2 linked regions of the Homo sapiens genome follow. The protein of the gene in region 1 interacts with the protein of each later gene in a pairwise test. Each region holds a gene or a part of one and is shown on either strand. Other genes may lie near its edges.

Region 1 (7,366 bases):
GATCTGTAGAGATAGATTGTGCCTTTGCTGCCCTTATTCCATCTTCAATTCCTGTTACTCTAGTCCAAGCAGAAATTACTTTTTTTTGCCCGAGATTCTTAATCATTTTCCTTATACAATCATCCTCTTATTTTCTTCATGACCCTTCTCATGGTTCTGAGCTCCCTCCGGTGCCGTTTTTGGCCCCAGATGAGGATGGGTCAGTGGTGAAGGACTGAAGGAAGCTGAGCTAGCCCTGTCGTCAGTGGGCTTTACTGTTTTCTTTGCCCACAGGCAATAGAAATAGAAGAACGGAGGATCCAGAGCTGTGTGCATTTCATGACTCTAAAGAAGCTTAACCGATTAGCCCACATCAGGTTGAAGAAAGGAAGAGATCAGACCCACGAGGTAGTAGTTAAAAGGTTTAATTTTAACCTTCCTCCTTCCTCCTCCCCATCCCCTTCTTTTTTTTTTTTTTTTTTTTTTTTTGAGACAGAGTCTCGTTCTGTCCCCCAGGCTAGAGTGCAGTGGCACGATCTCAGCTCACCACATCCTCTGCCTCCCAGCTTCAAGCGATTCTCCTGCCTCAGCCTCCTAAGTAGCTGGGATTACAGGCACCTCCCACCACCATGCCTGGCTAATTTTTGTATTTTTTAGTAGAGATGGGGTTTCACCTTGTTGGCCAGGCTTGTCTTGAACTCCTGAGCTCAGGTGATCCACTCGCCTCGGCCTCCCAAAGTGCTGGGATTACAGGCGTGAGCCACTGCACCCAGCCCCATCCCCTTCTTTATTCCCTTTACACCTTCTCTTAGTTTGCTGACCCTCTCCTCTGCTCCATCCTGACTTGCCCTGCTCACTTCTGATCGTATTTTCCTTTCAGGCTAAGCAGAAAGTAGATGCCTATCATCTGCAGCTCCAGAACCTGTTGTATGAGGTGATGCACCTACAGAAGGAGATCACCAAATGTTTGGAGTTTAAGTGAGTTTGGGAGGACAGGGCTTTGGCACATGTGGTCTTTCGGTAACTGCTTTTTCCCATGTAGCTCACTGTAAGTCTGTTTCTTTTTTTTTTTTGAGACGGAGTCTTGCCCTGTCACCCAGGCTGGAGTGCAGTGGCGCAATCTCAGCTCACTGCAACCTCCACCTCCCGGGTTCAAGCAATTCTCCTGCCTCAGCCTTCTGAGTAGCTGGGATTGCAGGCGCCCACCTCCACATCCAGCTAATTTTTGTATTTTTAGTAGAGACGGGGTTTTGCCATGTTGGCCAGGCTGTTCTCGAACTCCTGACCTCAGGTGGTCCTCCCGCCTCGGCCTCCCAAAGTGCTGGGATTACAGGCGTGAGCCACCGCTCCCAGCCTAAGTCTCTCTTTAAAAAGAAATCTGATGAGCTTAGAAAACTGTAGGATCTGGGAGAAGGGCAAATTGCAAGGGTGAATGTGGGAGAATTGCAAGCCGTGATTTCAGGCTGCATAAAGAACCTCAGAAGTCTCTCTGACCTTTTTGAGTTTTGAGCTCTGCACTTGGTAAAAAGCAGGTCTCTCTCCCTATCAGGGGTCTTTACATTACCAGTTTGATTTCTGGGCATGTTGTATGGGAGCAACTCACTTCCAGTCACATTCTTTTAACCTTTTGGCCCAGTTTTCCTTTCTGTAGTCCCAGCAGTTCATTTCTGCAAATGGATTTTATTCTTTGGAACCTGAATTTCTTGCTGCTTAGCTGCCTTCAGGTGAAGAAACTACAGTTTGTCAGTGTCCTTCCTCAAAACCAAGCTGAGAGATGAGAAGGAGGAAGGAGTAAACGGGAAGAGAAGGGGAAGTGTTCTCACTTGATCAGACCTGTTTATGCAAACTGAAAGCAGCTTTTATCTGTAACAAACTTGACATATGCAGGGGCCCTATTAGACATTGGGTCCAGGATATATATATATATATATATATATATATATTTTTTTTTTTTTTTTTTTTTTTTTTTTTTTTTGGAGATGGAGTCTTGCTCTGTCGCCCAGGCTGGAGTGCAGTGGCGTGATCTCGGCTCACTGCAAGCTCCGCCTCCCGGGTTCACGCCATTCTCCTGCCTCAGCCTCCCGAGTAGCTGGGACTACAGGCGCTTGCCACCACGCCCGGCTAATATTTCGTGTTTTTAGTAGAGACAGGGTTTCACCGTGTTAGCCAGGATGGTCTCGATCTCCTGATCTTATGATCCGCCTGCCTCAGCCTCCCAAAGTGCTGGGATTACAGGCGTGAGCCACCACACCCGGTGGGTCCGGAATATTTTTAATAATCATGATACTGATTGATTGTTTTGTTTTTTGTCTTTTTTTTTTTTTTTTTTTGAGACAGGGTCTCACTCCTGTCACCCAGGCTGGTGTGGTGGCACAATCCTGGCTCACTGCAGCCTTGACTTGACTTGGCTCAGATGATCCTCCCATTTCAGCCTCCTGAGTAGCTGGGACTATTGGCATGCACCACCATGCCTGGCTAATTTTTTGTATTTTTAGTAGTGATAGGGTTTTGCCATGCTGGGCTAGTCTCAAACTCCTGGTTGCAAATGATCCACCTGCCTTGGCCTCCCAAAAGGGTAAGATTAAAGGTGTAAGCCACCAAGCCTGGCCTGATGCTGATTTTTTTCTTTTCTTTTCTTTTCTTTTTTTTTTAAAGATAAAGTCTCGCTCTGTTGCCCAGGCTGGAGTGTGGTGGCGTGATCTTGGCTCATTGCAACCTCTGCCTCCTGGGTTCAAGCGATTGCATGCATGAGCCACCACACCCAGCTAATTTTCGTATTTTTAGTAAAGACAGGGTTTCACCATGTTGGCCAGGCTGGTCTCAAACTCCTGACTTCAGATGATGCACCCATTTCGACCTCCCAAAGTGCTAGAATTACAGGCATGAGCCACTGTGCCCAGCCCTGATGCTGATTTTTGAGAGGCATCTTTATCTGTTCCACAAAATCGTCACATAACAATAGTTAAATATGAATAGAGGTGAAATCTGCATCAGGTCTGTACTTGAGTTAATAATATTGTACCAGTGTCAGTTCCTGGTTTTGACAATGTATAATGTGGTTAGATAAGATAGTATCATTGGGTGAAGGGTACATGGAGGAAATACATTCTAAGTATTATTTTTGAAACTTCTTGGAGTCTTAAACTATTTCCAAATTAAAAAGGTATCAAAAACAAAATAATGTGATGCACTGGTCTGTAATCATCACCCAAATGGAAACTGACAAACCCAGAATACAGTGGAACTTGCGCCTGTTGGGAGGCAGACGGCCACATGGAAGGAGCATAGGCCTTGAAGTTACACAGCCTGGGTTCAAATCCCAGCTTGGCCACTCCCTAGCTGTGGACCTTGGGCAAGCTGCTTACTGATAGAAGCCTCCATCTCAGTCAAAAAATGGAGATTAAAACTCCCCACCTCTTAGAGTTGTTGTGAGGCTTAAATGAGGTGAGGATGACATATAGTGGGTGCTTATTAATATATGATAGCTGCCGTTATCATTACTGTCATCTGACCATAACCTGAGCAGTCAACTATGTTAATACAGCAAAGAGGGTTGGATTTTTTTGAGATGGAGTCTCGCTCTGTCTCCCAGGCTGGAGTGCAATGGCGCAATCCTGGCTCACCGCAACCTCTGCCTCCTGGGTTCGAGCGATTCTCCTGCCTCAGCCTCCTAAGTAGCTGGGATTACAGGCATGCGTCACCACGCCCAGCTAATTTTTAGTAGAGACGGGGTTTCACCTTGTTGATCAGGCTGGTCTCGAACTCCTGACCTCAGGTAATCCACCTGCCTTGGCCTCCCAAGGTGCTGGGATTACAGGGGTGAGCCACCGCGCCTGGCAGAATTTCTTTTCTTTTATACATATAAATCACTATGCATGCAACGGTTTAAGCCTCTAGATCTTTTTCCATCCAGTTCTCCCATGCTGGATCTTCCTCATTCTGTTCTTACGCGGCTAATGTCTTGAACTTAAGTGCAGACCCTTGTATTTATTCCTGTTAAATTATGTCTTGCTTTCAACCCTACAGCCTAGGCCCAGGCTGTAGTGTTTTTACTTGACTTTTTAGCTAGTAGTTCTCCTGCTCAGCTTGGAGACATTTGTAAATTTGATAAGAATCCCTTCCGAGTCTTTAATTCATGGGTAAAAAGGTTGGACAGCATGGATAAGGATCCTATGGCATGTCACCAACTACCTTTCTTCACACTGAAATATCTGCTAATGAGCATTTGTGGAGAAGACTGGATTCCAGGATCCTGTAGACCAGGACTAAGCAGGCATATGTTGGGGATAACTTTGGGCCTGCTTAAACTACAGTTTAGTTTCCTGAGAACAGCAGCTTGATGTCATGTTTTTGTCTGTAGGTCAAAGCATGAAGAAATTGATCTGGTCAGTTTAGAGGAGTTTTATAAGGAGGCTCCACCAGATATCAGCAAGGCCGAAGTCACCATGGGAGACCCTCACCAGCAAACACTGGCACGTCTGGACTGGGAGCTGGAGCAGCGGAAAAGGTAGCATTTCCTCCTTCCTGACCTTTTAACCACAAAGTGTCAGTGCTTTGTCATGACCCAGGATAAGGCAGCAAAACACTGTGCAACTCTCAGAATAGTTTCTAAGACCAAATCCCATTTTATGATTAAATCACACTGGATAGTTTAAACTTCACCAACCTCATCATGGATGGGGTTGGGGTTATAATTGCTTAAGGGTTTTTTTTTTTTTTTTTTTTTTGAGATGGAGTCTCACTCTGTCTCCCAGGCTGGAGTGCGGTGGTGTGATCTCAGTTCACTGCAACCTCTGCCTCCCAGGTTCAAGTGATTCTCAGTCCTCAGCCTCCCGAGTAGCTGGGTGGTAGGTGTGCACCACCACGCCCATCTATTATTTGTATTTTTTGTAGAGATGGGGTTTCACCATGTTGGCTAGGCTGATCTCAAACTCCTGACCTCAAGTGATCTGCCTGCCTTGGCTTCCCAAAGTGCTGGGATTACAGACGTGAGCCACTGTGCCTGGCCCTTTTTTTTTTTTTTTTTTTTTTTTTTCCAAAGAGATGGCGTTTCACTCTATTGCTCAGGATGGAGTGCTGTGGCACTATCACGACTCACTTCAGCCTTGACCTCCTGGGCTCAAGCGATCCTTCTGCCTCAGCCTCCCAAGTAGCCAGGACTATGGGTGCCTGCCACCATGCCTGGCTAATATTTTTATTTTTGTAGAGCAGGGTTCTCACTCTGTTACCCAGGCTGGTCTTGAATTCCTGGCTTCAAGTGATCCTCCCACCTTGGCCTCCCAAAGTGCTGGGATTACAGGTGTGAGTTACCATGCCTGGTCTCTCCTTGAAATTTTAATGCCGAAGACCTTATCTTTTGTACCATAAATCTAATTTTGTATTTGCCTTTCCCCTTATCTGTAAGTGTATGCCTATGGCAGAAAGCTTTGTAAACACTATTTCAGGAGGTTGTGCAACATTCTAGTGTATATTCTGGTGTATAGAAAAATGCACAAAATTATTCCCCTGTTGGATTTTAGGTTGTTTCCATTTTTTGCTGTCATAAATAATGCTTCAGCCAGGCGAGGTGGCTCACGTCTGTAATCCCAGCACTTTGGGAGGCCAAGGCAGGCGGATCACAAGGTCAGGAGATCGAGACCATCCTGGCTAACATGGTGAAACCCCGTCTCTACTAAAAATATAAAAAATTAGCCGGGCATGGTGGCGGGTGCCTGTAGTCCCAGCTACTCAGGAGGCTGAGGCAGGAGAATGGCGTGAAGCCGGGAGGCAGAGGTTGCAGTGAGCCGAGATTGCGCCACTGCACTCTAGCCTGGGCGACAGAATGAGACTCCGTCTCAAAAAATAAATAAATAAATAATGCTTCAAGTCACACTTTAGGTATAAACTTTTCTATATGAATAAAGAGGTTTATTTATTTATTTATCTATTTATTTATTTATTTTTTTGACACAGAGTTTCACTCTTGTCGCCCAGGCTGGAATGCAATGGTGTGATCTCGGCTTGCTGCAACCTCCACCTCCCTGGTTCAACCAATTCTCCTGCCTCAGCCTCCTGAGAAGCTGGGACTACAAGGCGTGTGCCACCACGCCCAGCTAATTTTTGTATTTTTAGTAGAAGCGGGGTTTCACCATGTTGGCCAGGATGGTCTCTACCTCTTGACCTCGTGATTCACCTGCCTCGGCTTCCCAAAGTGTTGGGATTACAGGCGTGAGCCACTGTGCCCGGCCAATTTTTGTATTTTTAATAGAGTTGGGGGTTTCACCTCCGCCTCCCCAGTTTAAGCGATTCTCCTGTCTCAGCCTCCTGAGTAGCTGGGATTACAGGCGCATGTCACTGTGCCCAGCTAATTTTTGTATTTTAGTAGAGACGGGTTTCACCATGTTGGCCAGGCTGGTCTCGAACTCTTGACCTCAGGTGATCCGCCTGCCTGGGCCTCCCAAAGTGCTGGAATTACAGGCATGAGCCACCATTCCCGGCCGAGTCTGGTTCTTAGGAAATTTGTGTCAGTGTCTTAGCAGATGGGGCTGACCTGTCACTCCGCTGTCCAGTCCACTGATTGTGCTGGGCACTGACTCAGCCATCAGTGCTGCATTCTTGTGGCACTGGTCCAGAATCTGTTCCCACCCTGTGCTAACCAGGCCAGTCCATGGGCCTCTTTTGGGTTATATAGCTGCTAAGTCCATGTTTGTGAAAGTTTTAGGTCTTACCTCTCAAGCAAGAAATGGAGCAGAAGATGGCATGTGTATTCCCTAGTGGTTACAGAGCAGACAGAGCCTCTGGAGAGCAAGAGACATGGATCCAAAGCCTAGCGCAGTGTTTGTTCTTAGCTGGATGCCCTTGGGCAAGTTATCTACTTGCCTGAGCCTTGGTTTCCTCCTTTGGGGATAAGCAAAGTCCCTGTCTTCCAGGGTCTTTATAAGTATTAAATGTAATTATGCTTTTAAAGAGCTCACCAAAGTACCTGGCACACATTGAGTGCTGGATAAACATTGGCAGTTAATCATGGCTGCTACTATTAGGTGGAGTCTGACAGTGAACAGGCATGTTGAGGTATCACTGGGGGATATCAGGTGACAATGCTCTTTCCTCCCCCAACAGGCTGGCAGAGAAGTACCGAGAGTGCCTATCTAACAAGGAGAAGATTCTCAAGGAGATTGAGGTGAAGAAGGAGTACCTGAGCAGCCTCCAGCCCCGCCTCAACAGCATCATGCAGGTGGGGCCCTCTGGCCTTTTGCTTTGCCTTCACCACTGACCAGGCGCTGCCAGAAGTCATGTCACCCTTTGGGCTTTGCCAGGTCTATTACCCTAAATTAGAGTATAGTATAAGGATGGCCTTGTCTGCATCCCTACCCAGTTGGTGTGATAAGCTTGTGTCTGGGAGGAAGAA
Region 2 (7,366 bases), on another chromosome or scaffold:
TCTTTCTGTATGCTAAGTGCTTTGTATATGTTATTTCATTTAATCTTCACAATCCCATGCGTGAATACTGTTATCCCCATTTCATTGACCAAATCAATGCTTAGTTACTTGCCTAAAGTCATATTGCTAAATCACAAGGACATAGTAGATCTAGATTTAAGCTTTCTATATAATACCTCTCACATTTAATTATAGGTTTAAGTGTTTATATTTTATCTTAAATATATGTTTTATTTTCAGCAGAAACTATATCTTTAAAAGATTAGAATGTCAGAAACAGAGTCAGAAAGGGAACCAGTAAAAGCTTATTAACATTTGATTGAGATTATTGTCACATCAAAAGACCAAAAAGAGTCTTATACAGTCCTTTAAAATTATGAGTTCTCAATGAAATGTTGACTTTATTGTTATTACTATAGCAAAGCATAGGCAAGTGTAGGCATTTTGAAATTGTGTGATCTAAGAACAGACCAGAATCTTATGTAAGCTGGTAATTTGGATCTGTAACAGTACTGATTAGGTTGGTGGAGTTTGGATGTATCTGATTCTTGAAATTGTGAAATTGCATGAGGGAGGAGAACCCGGAAAGTATGTCCTGAAAGCCAAAGGAGAGAATTTTAAGAGGACATCTTAGCAACCTCTTATCGAAAAAGAAATATAAGGAATTGGTACCCAACAGTGTCAGATGCTTCTGAAAGATTAAAGAGGATTGGAACTGAGAACCACCATTAGATTGTAGTGATTTGGGCAGTGGAAACCTTCGAGAGAAGAGTTTCACTATAGTTGAGGGATTAGAGGCCAGAAGTAGAATATTATACCTGAAAGAAATTTTAAATAGTCATCTAGATATCATTTTTATAGATAAAATATTTGAGTTTCAGAGAGATTAAATAATTTAAACTAAGTCGGTATCTCTAGACTGGTGATGATTTTGCCACCCAAGGGGCATTTGGCAATGTCTGGAGACATTTTTTATTGTCGCACCTGGGGAAGGGTGTGCTATTATTTAATAGCATCTAGTGGGTAGATGCTGTAAAATGTCCTGCAATATACAACAGTCTCCTGCCCCCACATACACACCCCAGAGAATTATCTGACCCAAAATGTCCATAATTCCAAGGCTGAGAAACCCCCGCCTAGGATTAGCACCCAACTGATTCTAAATCTAGTCTACTTGTAAGGAAGTAGAAATCGTGGATATAGACTATTCTTCAGTAGTGAGTAAGAAAGGGTGGCAGCTTCAAGACAGGGGTTTTTTGAAGTGTCTCTTTGAAGAAGCAAGCCTTGAGCATACCTCTAAGTCAAAGGAAGAAACCAGTATACAGTGAAAGACATTAAGGGTAAAAGTTACAGTACAACTGAAGAGGCTAAGCCTGGAGACAGAATCAACCATTAGGTAGTAGGCAGCCGTCTCTTGCTTTTCTTATATCAGGTTAAATTATTTTACTCCAAGATGTAATGAAGAAGGCCTATGTTAAAAATTGTCAGAGTAAATACATTTCTGAAATTAGAGAGTTTGACTAAAAAACTTGTCTTCTAAAACAAATAATTTAATGAAGTTATAAAGTTGATGTACAGCATCTACTTCATACAAACGCTAAAGAAAGTTAATCTTGTATAGTATTAAGTGCACGGACTGCCCTAGATTCAATTCCAAGCCTTTTCTCCCACTACTTATATGACCTTGAACAGATTTCTGAATCTCTCAGTGCCTTTTCTTCATCTATAAAACTGGGGTTAAATAAAGATATACTCATGTAAAGACTAAGGACAATGCCTGGGTTATAGTAAGTATTCAGTAAATACTTACTATTTAGTTATTAGCTATTTAGCATCAGCTATTAAATAGAAGTTCTATGCAGTAGTGGTTTATATTAATAATCCAGTGATGGCTTTGCCTGCAGAAGGTAGAGGTAGTTGAGTAGTTGAGATATTCTGTCTAACAAATAGCACCTTTTTTTGGGGTGGAGGTGGTCATTTGATTACATGACCTTCGGCCCCTCTAGTAAAGAGGTATGGTTGACTTACAATGCAACCTTTAGGGGAAAAGTCAGGAAGACTCGTTAAAATTATCTTTGTTTATAATATCAGGTTCTGCTTATTGCACATATTTTGTATTAAATACATGCTTTATGTAATTCAGATAAGTACATACCCAGCTTCCTCTTGAATATAATGTATATAGCTGTAAATGTCTGAAGTATGTAATATCAAGTATGTAATAGTATAGAACATATGTGAATTTGTACCTGATAAAGTATATCTTTGTCTCAACAAACTTAGACTATATCCACAGTGAAAAAAATTAAAATCACTTTTATCTTTCTATTATCAGCTCTAATAATGGACTTTAAGCAAAACTCTTCTGATACTAGCTTTCTCTGCTCATAAACCTCAGGTAAGTTTTCTTTGTGTATGTCTTCTTTTCAGATCAACAGAAACATTTAAAAAAGAAGATGATCTTGACAGTCTTATTAATGAAATACTTGAAGAGCCCAACTTGGACAAAAAACCCTCTGTAAGTCAAGTGTTATAAATATGTAGTAATTCTGTCATTATTTCAAGACATGTTTAGAATAGTCTTAAAGATGACACAAGTAGCTACCCATTATCTTTTGAATTCTGAGAAATACAATTACTTAAAGAAATTATTACACTTAAAGAGCAGTAGAAGCAGTAAAATATCAGAAACTCTCAGTATGTGTTTCCCTGTGCATTTCTCAGTAAGAATAACAAATTAGAAAAGCTGTTAGCATAGAAGTCAACTCACACATCAAGCTGGTCACTTGTATTTATTTGTAGTATCTAAGGACACTTTTCTAAAAGGCCAAAAACAAACAGCTTTCATTGTAGGAATGTGCTTAGCACCTCACATGCAATGCCATTGCTCTTATCCCATGAAGCAATGACTAAATTGTTAATATTTCAGTTTTTTAAATGTTTGTATGTCTATTTTAGCTGCATAAAAAGTTCAGAAAGTAATATAACAGCAACCTATATACTGAACATACCATGACAGCCACCCATATTAAACATATATTAATGTTTTGCCACATTTGCTTTACTGGACCTTTTTTTTTAAAAAGAAGTACAAATTAAAGATATAGTTTAAGACCTCTCTAAATCCTATTCTATTGCCTTCCTTCCCAAAGATAACCATTTATCCTTTCCATCCATACATTTATACTTTCATTACATATGTACATAACCATAAACAATTCTAACTGTGTACAGTAGTCCATTGTATAACTCTGCCACAGTTTATCCACTTCCCTGATGATGGACATTTAGATTGTGCTCAGTTGTTTGCTATTACAAATAGTGCTTCATCAGATACCTTTTTTTTAATCGGAGAAAAGGCATACAAATTTTGACATGTACACAGGGAAAACCAGTGATTACGCCTTCATTAGATATCTTTACATGGCTTCTTTTACCCATATACGGAAGTTTCTCTAGGGTGTATAAAGCTAGAAGAGGAATTCCTAGGTCATAAGGTGTGCTCATCTTCAACTTTTCTACCCATTGCCAAATTGTTTTCCAAAGTGACTTTATCACTTAACATTTTTCATACTGGGCAGTATATGAGAATTTATGTATTTTAATTTTTATCAGTATGGTGTGTGTCAAGCATTATCTGTTAGATTTAAAAGAAAGATACAAAAATAGAAGTCTAATTTACAAAGATCACAAAAAAATTTAAGAAATAACTATAGTACCAGGGTTTTGTTTTTTAAAGGATAGGGAAGATAAAAGCAAAACAGTGGACTGAAAATACCTAGGTAATGGTTGTGGTAAGAATATGGATAGGGACCACTTACATTTTTGTCACCCAGACTAAAAATCAAGTGACTAGTATAGATTTTAGAAAATTAAACTTTTTCAATTCACCTGAAGTAAATTAATAAGCACATGCCAAGTTGAATAATATGTAAACACAATAGCAATATTAAATACAGTCATTCCTTGGTATACTCAAGGGATTGGTTCCAGGACCCCCACATATACCAAAATCCATACATACTCAAGTTCCACAGTCAGCCTTACAGAACCCACCTTATGAAAAGTTGGCCCTCTGTACGTGGGGTTTCGCATGCCACAAATACTGTATTTTTGATCCTTGTTTGGTTGGAAAAATTCCACATATAAGTGGACTTGTGCAGTTGAAACGCATGTTGTTCAAGGGTCACCTGTACCCTGCAAATAGAATACTTCCTAAATACTGAGTAAGTGCATAAGCACTGAATAGTAATGCCAATTAGTAGTACTAATTAATGGTAGAAAAAAATTACATCATTTTGTTGCTCTTCATTAATCATCTGAGCAATTCATTGTTTATTAAGTACCAATAGGGTGCATATCTGTATATGAGGCGCTATCTTTTCAGTTAAGGTGTTTCAGAAGAAGATAAGTACTTCTCTGGTTTGGCTTTAAGATATACTAATTTGAAATAAAAGTAGCTCTTATAATCATGAAGAAGTAAATTTTTAATCATGATCTTTTCCTTTTTTAGTTATGTATTATGTCCAGTTTTCCAACCTTCAAAGGAGACAGCAGGTCTAAGTAAAACATTTATTGGGAAAAAAAAACATGTATTAACAAAAGAAACATAGATAAACAGATAGTCTATGCCAACGTTGTCATTAGAGGCTATATTATGCCCTGACAATACTACTCCCTTACCGCACCTCCTGCTCTCCCATTCTGTCGCATTTCTGAACTGTTCCCAGACCCACACAAGAAAGCCCAGGAACCAACAACAAACCTCAGAGTGTGCCAGCTTAGAGTCATAAGCCTGAGTCTGGATGGCACATGAAACATGCTCCCCAAACAGAAAGATTCGTGCATATTATTATTTTTCAAACATGTACCAAAATTTTTTCCATTTCTGCTTAACATCAAATAAGAGTTGAGAGACATAGTAAAACAATATTTTCGCCTCTATTAAATTTCCTCACCCACTATGTAAAATGAAGGCATGTCTCTGCATAGTTTAAATTGCCTTTTCTCCATCTCACTTCCTCTCCTTGGCGGTGGTCCTAGTGTGTGGTTGGTTTATGTTGTTTGGTACCATATACCAGTTAACACTTAATAAATGCTTGCTAATGATGATGATACTATGTAACCATATAGGAACTACTGTATGGTTGTGACTAGGTAGTTCTACATTTTCCTTGCACATTTATTGGTTGATGCCATTCCATTTGATCAAAATTAATATTCCTGAAGTTACACAGGAGCTTGGTTAATTTTAATTCATATGACGCACATTCACAGCCTTTAAAAATGAGTCTGAGGTTTTTTTCCTCCTCAATTGAATTTTTCTAGAATGAAGTTTTAAATAGCAGGTCCTTCATATTAAATCATTGAACTGTAATATTAACTGAAGAGTTATAAAGTGACTCTAAATCTTAGCATGCTAATAATGGCAATATATCAGTTTCCTAGCCTAAAAGTTAGTAGAGTAATTTGCACATTCCTTAGGGAGTTCTACTTCCCTTTTGCCTTTAAAAGGTTTTGATCATTGTTTTTATTTCAGAAACTTAAAAATGATGCCATGAAAATTTGTATTTAAGTCATTTAGAAAATATTCTTGTTATAAGGAATATTAGTTTTCATGTTACAGTTTTCTAAGTTACTCATGGCCTTTTATTGTTTTGCTTTTTTAACAGAAATTAAAATCTAAATCTTCAGGTAACACATCTGTCAGAGCTTCCATTGAAGGCCTTGGTAAAAGGTAAGTTGAGATTGCTTTGGTGAATTATACACACTATTGAGCAAACACTATGAGCATAGTCTAGTAGATTTTGTTACCATTTAAACAGCAGTGACATTGAACAACAAAGCATTGGTTGGCCTTCAGGAGAAAGACCAATAGCAATATCTTCAGTGTTCTTATGGTCTGTGACCCCCTTTGTGTAAAGGAAATTAAATGGGGGATTATTGCTATTGTAAATAATTTTCTGCCATTTAAAAAAAGTGTGAACAGTTTCTCAAAATTAATGTTCTGTTATATTCTTCAGTATTTACTTTGTCCCTTACATTATTTGGCAAACACATTTTTCTTTTACTCATTTTAATTCCTTGAGTGTTCCTGAATGTACAGGTTATATCCAATAAAGCAGTGATCCTACAATAAATATCTCTTCTTTGAAATGGTTGGCTTGCTAGGGAAAATAGACAATTTGATTACAAGAACATAAAGTCAATAAAACCAAAAATTTTTTTAACATGGCCAAATTAACTTCTCCTATTTTTTGTTATAACTTCATATTTTTGCATCTGTTGAACACATCTAGTTGCAGTCCGGTGTACCTTGGTGGAAGCTCTATTCCATGTGGGATTGGAACAAATATTTCATGGAGGTAGGTTGTCAGAAATGTATTATACTTTCTTACTAGGTTTTTTCCAAATGGATGCCCCATTGTTAAAATGTAGTTATCATCTTCACATCAATCTGTTTTATAAGGAGAGGTATTTTTATTAGCTAATCTAAGAATTCTTTGTTTTTTATTCTTGGGAGATAGCTATTGAAAGCTGTGATGTTAGGTACATATTATTCATTTTATGCCCTTTTCTAAGCCCCACTTGAAATGCCTGGATCACTCCAGTCCCAGCTTTGTTTCCACAGGACACAGGAGAGTGAACTTCCTTCCAGGCAGTGGAAGCAAAGTGGCCATGCAGATACATGATGCCTTACCCACACTGCCTTGGCCAATTAGCATGCAAAGCTACAGGTCTGCATTGCCCAAAACATTCTCAAGCGTAGTTGCTTGATTTTACATGTTTACATATTTCAAAAACAAAAACCTTATGTTCTTTGTCTCTTCCCTGCCCTTCCTGCCTCCACTTTCTCACTCAGTACCTCTTTCTGGGCAGTCTTATAGTCATGATGCCACCTACCCCAAACCCATATTAGCCCCATAGTCCTAGCACATTCCATTGGCATTTTCATAATGTGGGCAAACAGTTTGGCTTTAAGCAAACCCTACTCTCCTGCTGCTTTTGGTTCTATTTTTGGCAGAGGTCTACTTACCTAACTTACTTTATTAAAATACTTTTATCTAATTATTTCTAAAACACTTATTTTCTGTTAATTTTTTAAGAAAGAATGGCCTAAGTTATATGATTGCATGTTGACCACATTTCTGGAGGGCTAACTGTTGTATAGTCAAGTGTCACCAACAAGGATACATTCTGAGAAATATGTCATTAGTCATAAGTCATTATGACTTCCTCATGTACAAACATCATAGAGTGTACTTACACAAACCTAGATGATATAGCCTACTCCACACCTAGGCTAGGTGGTATACTAGCCTACTACATACTACTAGGCTATAAACCTGTGTAGCATGTAACCGCA

The links.
Region 2: the proteins of THOC5 (region 1) and CFAP418 interact in a two-hybrid assay, tested with the Homo sapiens proteins (one study listed by IntAct).

The regions. Positions count from the first base shown.
Region 1 is NC_000022.11:29,536,450-29,543,815, reverse strand, and holds part of THOC5 (THO complex subunit 5), read left to right. Parts: intron 1-273; coding exon 274-387; intron 388-859; coding exon 860-957; intron 958-4,339; coding exon 4,340-4,486; intron 4,487-7,077; coding exon 7,078-7,192; intron 7,193-7,366. UniProt on the Homo sapiens protein: Component of the THO subcomplex of the TREX complex which is thought to couple mRNA transcription, processing and nuclear export, and which specifically associates with spliced mRNA and not with unspliced pre-mRNA.
Region 2 is NC_000008.11:95,258,839-95,266,204, reverse strand, and holds part of CFAP418 (cilia- and flagella-associated protein 418), read left to right. Parts: intron 1-2,430; coding exon 2,431-2,518; intron 2,519-5,672; coding exon 5,673-5,737; intron 5,738-6,299; coding exon 6,300-6,365; intron 6,366-7,366. UniProt on the Homo sapiens protein: May be involved in photoreceptor outer segment disk morphogenesis.